Regions from separate parts of the Homo sapiens genome. Here region 1 is linked to region 2. The links come from fine-mapping of genetic effects on gene expression. Tissue or cell type: neutrophils. Region 2 holds a variant in brackets; the other region holds the start of a gene. All regions are shown on one strand. Distances are between the middles of the regions.

Evidence for each region. PIP is the estimated chance that this variant, and not a neighbour inherited with it, causes the effect.
Region 1: VCL starts here. The variant in region 2 is fine-mapped to the expression of VCL in neutrophils (CEDAR, PIP 0.95).

What each region holds. Positions count from the first base shown.
Region 1 is chr10:73,995,010-74,000,009 of GRCh38, reverse strand. VCL (vinculin) reads right to left here and starts at 1,894. Exons shown (of 22, transcript NM_014000.3): 1 at 1,635-1,894. The coding sequence starts at 1,802. RefSeq lists enhancers at 942-1,593, 1,666-1,865 and silencers at 1,546-1,595, 1,926-2,285.
Region 2 is chr10:74,049,954-74,054,953 of GRCh38, reverse strand. The region is part of intron 2 of VCL (vinculin); the gene reads right to left. Among named protein-coding and RNA genes, the nearest start is that of VCL, 54 kb to the right of the region's middle. The variant C/AC (reference allele first, on the strand shown) is at 2,580.

The DNA.
Region 1 (5,000 bases), 55 kb after region 2:
ATTTCATTTCCTGAAGTACTACATGGAGAGACACTATTACCTTGTCTCTTTACATTGTTTCCTATTTGTTGAAAAATGGAGGCCTGGAATGCAGCCATGTTAGACAACACTACATAAGAATGTACTCTGGAGTGTTCTGTTCAAATTAGTTATAAAAAGAAGAACAATGTACAAGTAGACATTGTGAATGAATACAGCATTCTTACTGAATGAATAGATTCTTACTAAAGCTATAGAGAAGAAAGATCAGGAATTTGGTCGGTGGTGTCACCCTGTCTTCCTAGCTACCAGTCTCCTAAATTGCTTGAGACAGTCCAGGGACCCCTGAAGACTGAGGAAGACTTTCAGCTGCTAAAGAGCCTCTAAGTGCACTAAAGTGCTCAAATCAGAAAAGTAACCCAAGCCCCACCCAGACAGACCCACAGTTGCCGCCCAACTGCCCTGACACACACTATTTACACAGCTCAGTGGGGGAGCAGTATGAACTTTTTCCAAAATTGTTCCTCACAAGCAGGACCAGTCTGAGTCACCCACCCAGGGTGGGAAAGAAAAGTGTGACATTAGCCAGGGGAGTCTTGGGAGACTGGTCTCAGCACCTCTTTTTTCCCATTTCAGACGTGGGCTCCACCTCCTCCAGGAATCACCTCGGTTATGAGTCACAGCTGTGGGTTACAGGGGTCTGCAGAGCCACCAGGAAAGTTGTGGATGGGGAGCGGATGCCCCAGCCTTCTCTCCGGCAGGGGCGGCAGATCCCAGATTCCACAGGCCTCTCCCAACAGCTCCATCTTGCTTCCTGCCAGGAGGAGGGGCCAAGGAGGGCCCCCGAGTCTAGAAAGGCCCCAGTGGGAGGAGGCCGTTTGACAGCAGGTAACGCCAGGTGAAAATGTCCACAGGAGGGAATGAAAGGAAGGGCAGCAGGGCTGAGCGGAAGGAAAAACCGGGCTTGTGGTCACGAATGACTGCATAAAGGTGTGAGAGTGCCAGAGGAGTGAGCATAAGTAAAATGCCCAGGAGGGAGGAGGAGGCGACAGAGAGTGAGGCAAGTGAATAAAAGGGCGGAATACAGGGAGCTCTGGGGAGCGGGGGTGGGCGAGGCGGGTCTCAGGGTGAGGGGCAGAAGTATTAGAAAGGAGGACAACGTGGCTCAAATAAGGATCCCTAGAAGAGAAGGCAAGGGATCCGTGGGAAGGCCCGCTCTCCCTCCCCCGCACAGCCAGATCGAGGAGGCCTAAAAGGCGCTGAGAGCGAGGAAGTCAACGTGGGGGCGAAGCCTGCGCGGGGCAGGGACCCTCGGACATCCCAGCAACTCTCATTTATTGGGTGTCTGCTGTGGGCCACACGCCGCGCGAGGCACTCCACGAATAATACCTCGCCATATCTTCACGACAAGCCCGCAAGGCAGCCTTTTTCATGACTGCTCCCATTTTATAGATGAGGACACTGAGGCCCGGAGAGGCTCAGGACTCGCTCAAGGTCACAGGGCGGAGAAGAGGCCATTCGAACCCTCGGCGCCTGGCTCCGGAACCCACGCGGAAAGCCACGGCCAGCGAGCCGGCCACAGGCAGCCGCGACGCGGGCCGGGGCCCCGGGGATACCTCCCGCGCCCGCTCCCGCGCCAGGCCCTGCGCGCTCACCCGGACGAGGTTGCTGACGGCCGCCTGCACGGCGGCCACGGGCGCGGTGAGGTCAGGAATGGCTTTGCCGTCCACCTCGCCCTCCTCGTGCATTATCACCAGGTGGGAGATCTGCTGTGCCACCGGCTCCAGGATGCTCTCGATCGTGCGCGTATGAAACACTGGCATCGCGGCGGCGAGCGGGGCGGCGAACCGCGGGCGACAGAGAAGTAGGATCCACGGGGCCGGGAACCGGCGAAGAGACAGACTGTGCAGCGACTACGGAGTCGGGGCTTCCCTCGGCGTAACCAGCCTCACGGGCTCCCCGCCCCCTCTCGTCGCCGCGCCCAATGGCAGCGCAGCTCAGACCTGGGCCGCCACTCCTACTGGTCCCTTTTCGAGATGCTCCGCCCCAGCCACCGCGCCGCCAAACCCCGCCCCTCCCCCATTCCTAAGGGAGGGGCCTGGGATTGGGGCTGAGCCGCCGGGATTGCTACCGGATTCCCGAGCCCTAACGCCGGGCGCTCCTTATAAGGGCATGGTGGGAGCGGAGCGGGCCGCTGGAGCCGGCTGGTCCCGCCCCCGGGCCGCCTCCCGCCTCGGATCTGGGGGGCTCCGCCCCTCTGCAGAATCACCTCAGCGGGGCGGGGTCTCCTCACCTCAAGCGGCGCTAGAGTTTGATGAGACCAAGGGGTCTCCCACGTCCCCTCCTCAACTTTTCCCTTCACACGAAACCCTCAAAATACTCCTTCCATTCCCTCCCAGCAATGCATGGGAAGGTTTTTAGTAAAAGATTCAAACAGCAGAGGTGCACTGAGAAACAGCAGCGTCCCATTCACGTAAACGCAGACTCCGCCCCCTGCCCTCCTCAAAGACATTCTGTTTAACAGCTGGGTGTGTAGCCTTCTAGACTTGTCTATAGATTCACTTCTACATATATATTTTCTAACTAAATGAGATTAATAAACATTTTCCTGGAACTAGGTATGATTGCCCTTGATTAAAATGCCCTTATCTTTCACTGCTGGTAGAGGTCTACCTCATTCTTCTTAATGACTGCATGATATTCCATTGCATGAAATAAAACTATTTACAGAACCAATTTCCTACTCATGGACTTGGGTTGGGTCCTGGTTTTCACTATTAAAAAACAATTCTGCATGAATTGTACTTACCCCTGTGCTGTGCATCTGTGTATTTATCTAGCGCAAATGCCTACCAGGAAAGAGAAAAACGCAAAAGTATATGCATTTTATATTTTGATAGGTAAGACCAAATTATCCAGTTCCCTCACGCTTTGTATAAGACATCTTCCAGGCCGGGCGCGATGGCTCACGCCTGTAATCCCAGCACTTTGGGAGGCTGAGGCGGGCGGATCACGAGGTCAGGAGATCTAGGCCATCCTGTCTAACACGGTGAAACCCCGTATCTACTAAAAATACAAAAAAAATAGCCAGGCGTGGTGGCGGGCGCCTGTAGTCCCAGTTACTCATGAGGCTGAGGCAGGACAATGGCGTGAACCCGGGAGGCGGAGCTTGCAGTGAGCGGAGATCGCGCCACTACACTCCATCCTGGGCGACAGAGCAAGACTCTGTCTCAAAAAAAAAAAAAAAAAAAAAAAGACATCTTCCAAACGTCTTACTTACTTCAAATTCGCTTTTGCCCAAGCTTTCCCATTCTGAGGTAAACACTTTCAGTAATGCCTCCAAGCAAAAGATTCTCACATCAAATGAAAATTTTTGTCTAGTCCTACCACAACCACCACAGCTGTTTTCTCTGCCCATTACTTTGTGTTAATAGTATAAATATTTGGGTGATGGGGCCAGGCACGGTGGCTCACGCCTGTAATCCCAGCATTTTGGGAGGCTGAGGCAGGCAGATCACCTGAGGTCAGGGGTTCAAGACCAGCCTGGCCAACCTGGTGAAACCCCGTCTCAACTAAAAATACAAAAATTAGCCAGGTGTGGTGGCAGGTGCCTGTAATCCCAGCTAATCGGGAGGCTGAGACAGGAGACTTGCTTGAACCTGGGAGGTGGAGGTTGCAGTGAGCTGATACCGTGCCATTGCACTCTAGCCTGAGCAACAGAGTGAGACTCCCTGTCCAAAAAAAAAAAAGTTGAGTGATGGAACGATATGATTTTTTTATTTTAAAAATTATTTTATTTTATTTATTTTTATTTATGTTTTTATTTTTTGAGATAGGGTCTCACTCCGATTGTCCAGGCTGGAGTGCAGTGGTGTGATTTCGGCTCACTGCAGCCTTGACCTCCCCAGGCTCAGGTGATTCTCCCACCTCAGCATCCCAAGTAGCTGGGACCACAGGTGCATGCCACCACGCCCGGCTAATTTTTGTATTTTTGATAGAGACAAGGTTTCGCCATGTTGTCCAGGCTGATCTCAAACTCCTGGACTCAAGAAATCCACCTGCCTTGGCCTCCCAAAGTATAAATGGCCTCCCAAAGTATATATAGCCTCCCAAAAAGTGTATGATTTTGTTAAATCCTCACCCTGTCCCCACTTTGCTGATTGTATATTTATGTGTAGTTTAACTTGTTCTTCTGAACTATATATTTCCTACAGATTGGCAGGAAGACTCAGAGGCTTGATCATGTAATCATCTTTAATGCCTGACTGGCCATATTAACCTCCCAAAAAGAATATCACATTGCACATCCAGCCCATGTGCTCCCCAACATCCATAATCATACCCATTTCCGTCCCCCTGATTTCCACATTCACTGGCTCCCTCTAAAATCTTTCTTGGTGCCTGTTAGCATGTGTTAACACCAATGCCCTCCACAATCTGGGTCCAGACCAACCTTACTGCCTTCAGCTTCCCCACCTTAGACCCACAGACAGGCAGGTTAAACAGTGCAAACAGCATAAATTCAGAGCCATCCAGAGCTCAAGCCAGAACCCCAGCTTCACAACTTGATGGAGATATAACTCCGGCAAGTGGGATAATAGCACCGTCACAGAGCTGATGTAAGGGAATTTGTAAAGCACCTAGGAGACCTTCAGTAAAAGAAACCATTATCATTATTAGAGCAGTCACAAACTGACATATTCACAGTCTCCAGAAATTCCTGGTAGAGTTTCACTTTTGAGCTTTTCTCCACATTTCTTTCCCACCTAGAAAGCTATCAGTGCTTGTCTAACTCTTACCTATTGTGGTAGACAGAATTCTAAGATGTCCCCCGGGATTTCTCACTCCGAATATACACACTCTCCATAATCCCCAGGCTGTGACTATAAGGGATTTTACTTTCATAATCAGATTACATTATATAGCACAGTTGGTCTTAAAACAGGGAGATTATCCAAGTGGGCTTGACCTAATCACATGAGCTCTTTTAAAGCAGAGAGTTTTCTCTGGCCAGTTACAAC
Region 2 (5,000 bases):
TTGTTGTTGGTTTTTCTGTTTTTGTTTTTTTTTGAGACATAGTCTTGCTCTGTCACCCAGGCTGAAGTGCAATGGCGTGATCTCAGCTCACTGCAACCTCCACCTCCCAGGCTCAAGCAGTTCTCCTGCCTCAGTCACCCGAGTAGCTGGGCCTACAGGTGTGCAGCATCACGCCCAGCTAATTTTTGTATTTTTGGTAGAGACGGGATTTCACCATGTTGGCTACACTGGTCTTGAACTCCTGGCCTCAAGTAATCCTCCTGCCCTGGCCTCCCGAAGTGCTAGGATTAAAGGCGTGAGCCACCACGCCCAGCCTAAAATTTCACTATTATTACTTAAAGGTCCTTATGCTGAAAAAAAGTAGGCAATCACTGTTCTACAGTAGAATGTAATAAAAGAGTTACAGGCGTGGCAACCTAAACACAAAATGAAGTGATAGATACAATAAGAGGATATTTTTCACTTATGAAGAAAACTGGCAAAAACTAGGATGTAGATTAAAAGAAGAAGAACACAGTCTGGAGAAACAAGCCAACAGCAGGCTAACGTCTATCAACAGTCATTCTAAAAAAAGATAATTAGCAACAAATAATTAACAGAATTCAGAACCCAGAAGAATCACAAACTTGTAACCACCTAACAATATTGCTTTGAAATATGTAGAGCTAACACTGACAATTATAAGAAAAACAGACAGGTCTACAATTAGTATAGGAGATTTTTAACATATATCAATCATAAGCTGATAGTTGAAACAGACAAATTAGGCTATAAAAAATTGGACTAGTAATATTTATATACTGACCTAATTAGTATAAATAGAACTCTATACCCAAGCAAAAGAGAATATACTTTCTTTTCAAGCACACATAAAAACTCACTAGAACTGAGCTGTATGTAACAAAAGAATTTCCAAGAATTGATATCATACCAACCATGTCTTTGGGTACAATACAATTATATTAGAAATATAACAAAAGATATTAAAAAGAATTTTGAAAACTTTAAAAAATAATTTTAAAGAATTTTTAAATTCTCTAATTTAAAAATTAAAGTGGTACATGCCTGTAGTCCCAGCACTTTGGGAGGTGGAGGTGAGTGGATCACCTGAGGTCAGGAGTTCGAGACCAGTCTTACCAACATAGTGAAACCCTGTCTCTACTAAAAATATAAAAATTAGCCAGGCATGGTGGCGGGCACCTGTAATCCCAGCCACTTGGGAGGCTGAGGCAGGAGAATCGCTTGAACCCGGGAGGGAGAGGTTGCAGTGAGCCGAGATCATGTCATTGCACTACAGCCCAGGTGACAAAGCAAGACGCTATCTCAAAAAAGAAAAAAGAAAAGAAAGATTGAACATAAAGACTGAAATATTAAAAATAAGGTATTCAAATAATAAACTTGAGAAAAGTAAATAATAAATATGAGAAAAGAATTTAATGAAATAGATCTTTGTGGGAAAAGCTGGTAAGACAGATAAATCTCTAATAAGAGCGATAAGAAAAAAAGACAAAAGGCAGAAATAAGCAATACTGAATAGGAAATGTGATATAACTAGATACAACAGAGATTTTTAAAAGAATAATTATTATGAATTTTATGCTAATAAATTGGAAGGTTGGATAAAATTGGTAATTTCTTAGAAAAGTATCAGACTACCAAAGTTGACTCACAATGAATTTAGAACCTGATTTAGATAATAAAACAAAACTGAGCGAGTTTCTTTTTAGTCATATCTCTTCCTCCCAAAGACACCACCAGATACAGGGAGTTTTAGATGCAAGTTTTGCCAAACTTTCAAGAGCAGATAATCTTTATCTTACATAACCTGTTTCAAAAACTAGAAAAAGACCTTATTTTATGAAGCTAAAATAACTTTGATACCCAAACTAGAAAAGAACATAAAAAGAAAAGAAAATTACAGATAAAGGTCCCTCATGAGCAAAAATGCAAAATCCTTTTAAAATATTAGCAAATTAAATTCAGCACTATATATATATATATATATATTTTTTTTTTTCATCACAGCCAGGTAGGGTTTATCCTAGAAATGCAAGAATGGTTCATTATCAGCAAATCTATATTCATGTAGTAAACCATAGACTATCTCAACAGAGTAAAGGATAAAAATTGTGTAATCCACTCAACAGATACAGAAAGAAAGGGCATTAAATAAAAACAAGTAATCATGGTCCAATTCAAAAAAAAAAAAGTCTTACTACAGAAGACTACAAATTAGATAAAAAATATCTCTGAGAAAAGCTTAAAAAGTAACTGAAGGGCCAAGCACGGTGGCTCACGCCTGTAATTTCAGCACTTTGGTAGGCCAAGGTGAGCAGATCACCTGCGCTCAGGAGTTTGAGACCACCCTGGGCAAAATGGTGAAACCCCCTCTCTACCAAAATACAAAAAATCAGCTGGGAGTAGTGGTGCACACCTGTAGTCCCAGCTACTTGCGGGGCTGAGGCATGAGAATCGCTTGAGCCCTAGAGGGGGAGGTTGCAGTGAGCTGAGATCACGCTACTGCACTCCAACTTGTGCTACAGAGTGAGACTCCGTCTCAAAAAAAAAAAAAAAAAAAA[C/AC]TAACTGAAGAATTGAATCATTTATTTGGAGAAAATTATTAAGAAACAAAAATTAAGAAGCTATAGAAGAAAAAAAAAGAAGCTATAGAAGGGAGCTAATATGTAATTGAAGTAGGAGTCAGTACTCAATTCCAGAGGCAGGGCGTGGACACTGGACCACATAGAGGACTAGCTAAAGCAGGTCCAGGGTAAAAGCACCTCCCCATAAGACACACCCACCAGGGTGATAGGTCACCTTACCATTGCCACGGCAACACCCAGACGTTACTGCCCCTTTCCATGGCAACAACTGAACAACCTAGTAGCCACCACTTGCATTCTAGAAATTTCTGCACAAATCACCCCTTAATTAGAATATAATTAAAAGTGGGTATAAATATGAATGCAGAACTGCCTCTGAGCTGCTACTCTGGGCACGCTGCCTCTAGGGTAGCCCTGCTCCGCCAGCAGAAATGCCTCTGCTGCTGCTGCTGCTGCTGCTGTACACTGCTGCTTCAATAAAAGTTGCTAACACCACTGGCTAGCTCTTGAATTCTTTCCTAGGAAAAGCCAAGAACCCTCTTGGGATAAACCTCAGTTTTGGGGTTTGCCTGTCCTGCAACATAATCACCAAATGTTTCTTTTTGTTTGTTTTAGGTATTTTCACATATATCATTTCACTCATTTAAACCTCACAATAACTATTATGTTAGAAGAAGAGACTATTGTAAAGAAGAATGAGAAAGTACCTTAGCATACTGGAATGAGCATACTTGGAATCAAACAGTTCAGGGTTAGAATCCTACCTCTGCCATGTATGAACTGAGTAACTTTCAACACCTTACTGAGCTTCTCTTCATCTGAAAAATGAAGTGGACTAAATAACACAACTTAAAATACCCAGCTCATACAAGGTATTTAAGAAATTGAGCAGAGCTCAAGACCAGGCTGGCCAACATGCTGAAATCCCATCTCTACTAAAAATACAAAAATTAGCTGGGCGTGGTGGTGCGTGCCTGTAGTCCCAGCTACTCGGGAAGCTGAGGCGGGAGAATTGCTTGAACCCAGGAGGCAGCGGTTGCAGTGAGCCGAGATCACACCACTGCACTCCAGCCTGGATGACAGAGCAAGACTCCGTCTAAAACAAAAAACAAACAAACAAACAAACAAAAAACAGTAGTGATAGGCCAGCATTTTGGGAGGCTGAGGCAAATGGATCACTTGAGGCCAGGAGTTCGAGACCAGCCTGGCCAACATGGTGTAACCCATCTCTACTAAAAATGCAAAAATTGACCAGGCATGGTGGCATATGCCTGTAATCCCAGCTACTCGGGAGGCTGAGTCAGGAGAATCTCTTGAACCTGGGAGGTGGAGGTTGCAATGAGCTGAGATGGTGCCATTGCACTCCAGCCTGGGTAGCAGAGCGAGATTCCATCTCAAAAAAAAAAAAAAAAAAAAAAAAATACAGTAGTACTAAATTATGCTTAATGTGGCAAGTCCAAAGGTGAACTATTTAAAGTTTGAGTGCTTGCTCTAGGTCAAAAATGCAGCAAGGCAGTGGGCAGAGGTCAATGATTACATCACAGAACTTGGGCATCCACATTAAGAGACAAAAATCTTCTAATACTGTAGCAGTGGAAAGGACCACAAAACTCAGGACACACACACACACAAATCACACATTAGCCCCAGGCAAACAAAAGGTATTAAGTGATATGATTAAGTAATTAATTGTTAAAAAAAGATATTCTGGGCACTTTCACCCACAAGTGTGTTTAAAAATACAAATTTCATCACAAATTATTTTGAGTGTTCAAGATCACAAGCAAAGAAAAAGCTACAAGGCCTGATGACCTAAAAATGTGACATCATTACTTTAGGTCAAAAGAGATCTAAATTAAGTATAAAGCATATTTTAATCCTTCTCAAATTTCTTCTTTGTGCATGAATATAAATTATGGTAAATTTGTATAAGTAAATACCATAACTGTTCTTAACTAATAAAGTTTAAGGGTTAAAACAAAGAATTCCCAAGAAATGTGAATAATGGCAATCATGTAGCAGTAGTACATCCTTTCACATGGTATTTTGGGAACATTCTTTTATTCAATAAGCCTAGACATTACAGTATGCTTCAAAAATAGTCCAAGCTGGTGAACCAATCCAAGTTTTGACTTCAAGCAGACTGTCAGAGCAGCACTAAGGCAGAAAGTGACAACACTGTCCAGTTCGAAATGAAAGCTGTCATTTGCCTGCCAACAGATAATGTACACCATGCCCTTTTCAAGTTCATATCACAAGACCACCTCAGAAGTGATGCTTTTTGATCCATTCAGTTCTGAACATCCTTGGATCAGGTCCAAGAATTGCCTTCCTTATTCATTTCTGCTCCATTGCAGAAATAAGAATGAAATTCCACTGTATACAGCAATGACAATTTTT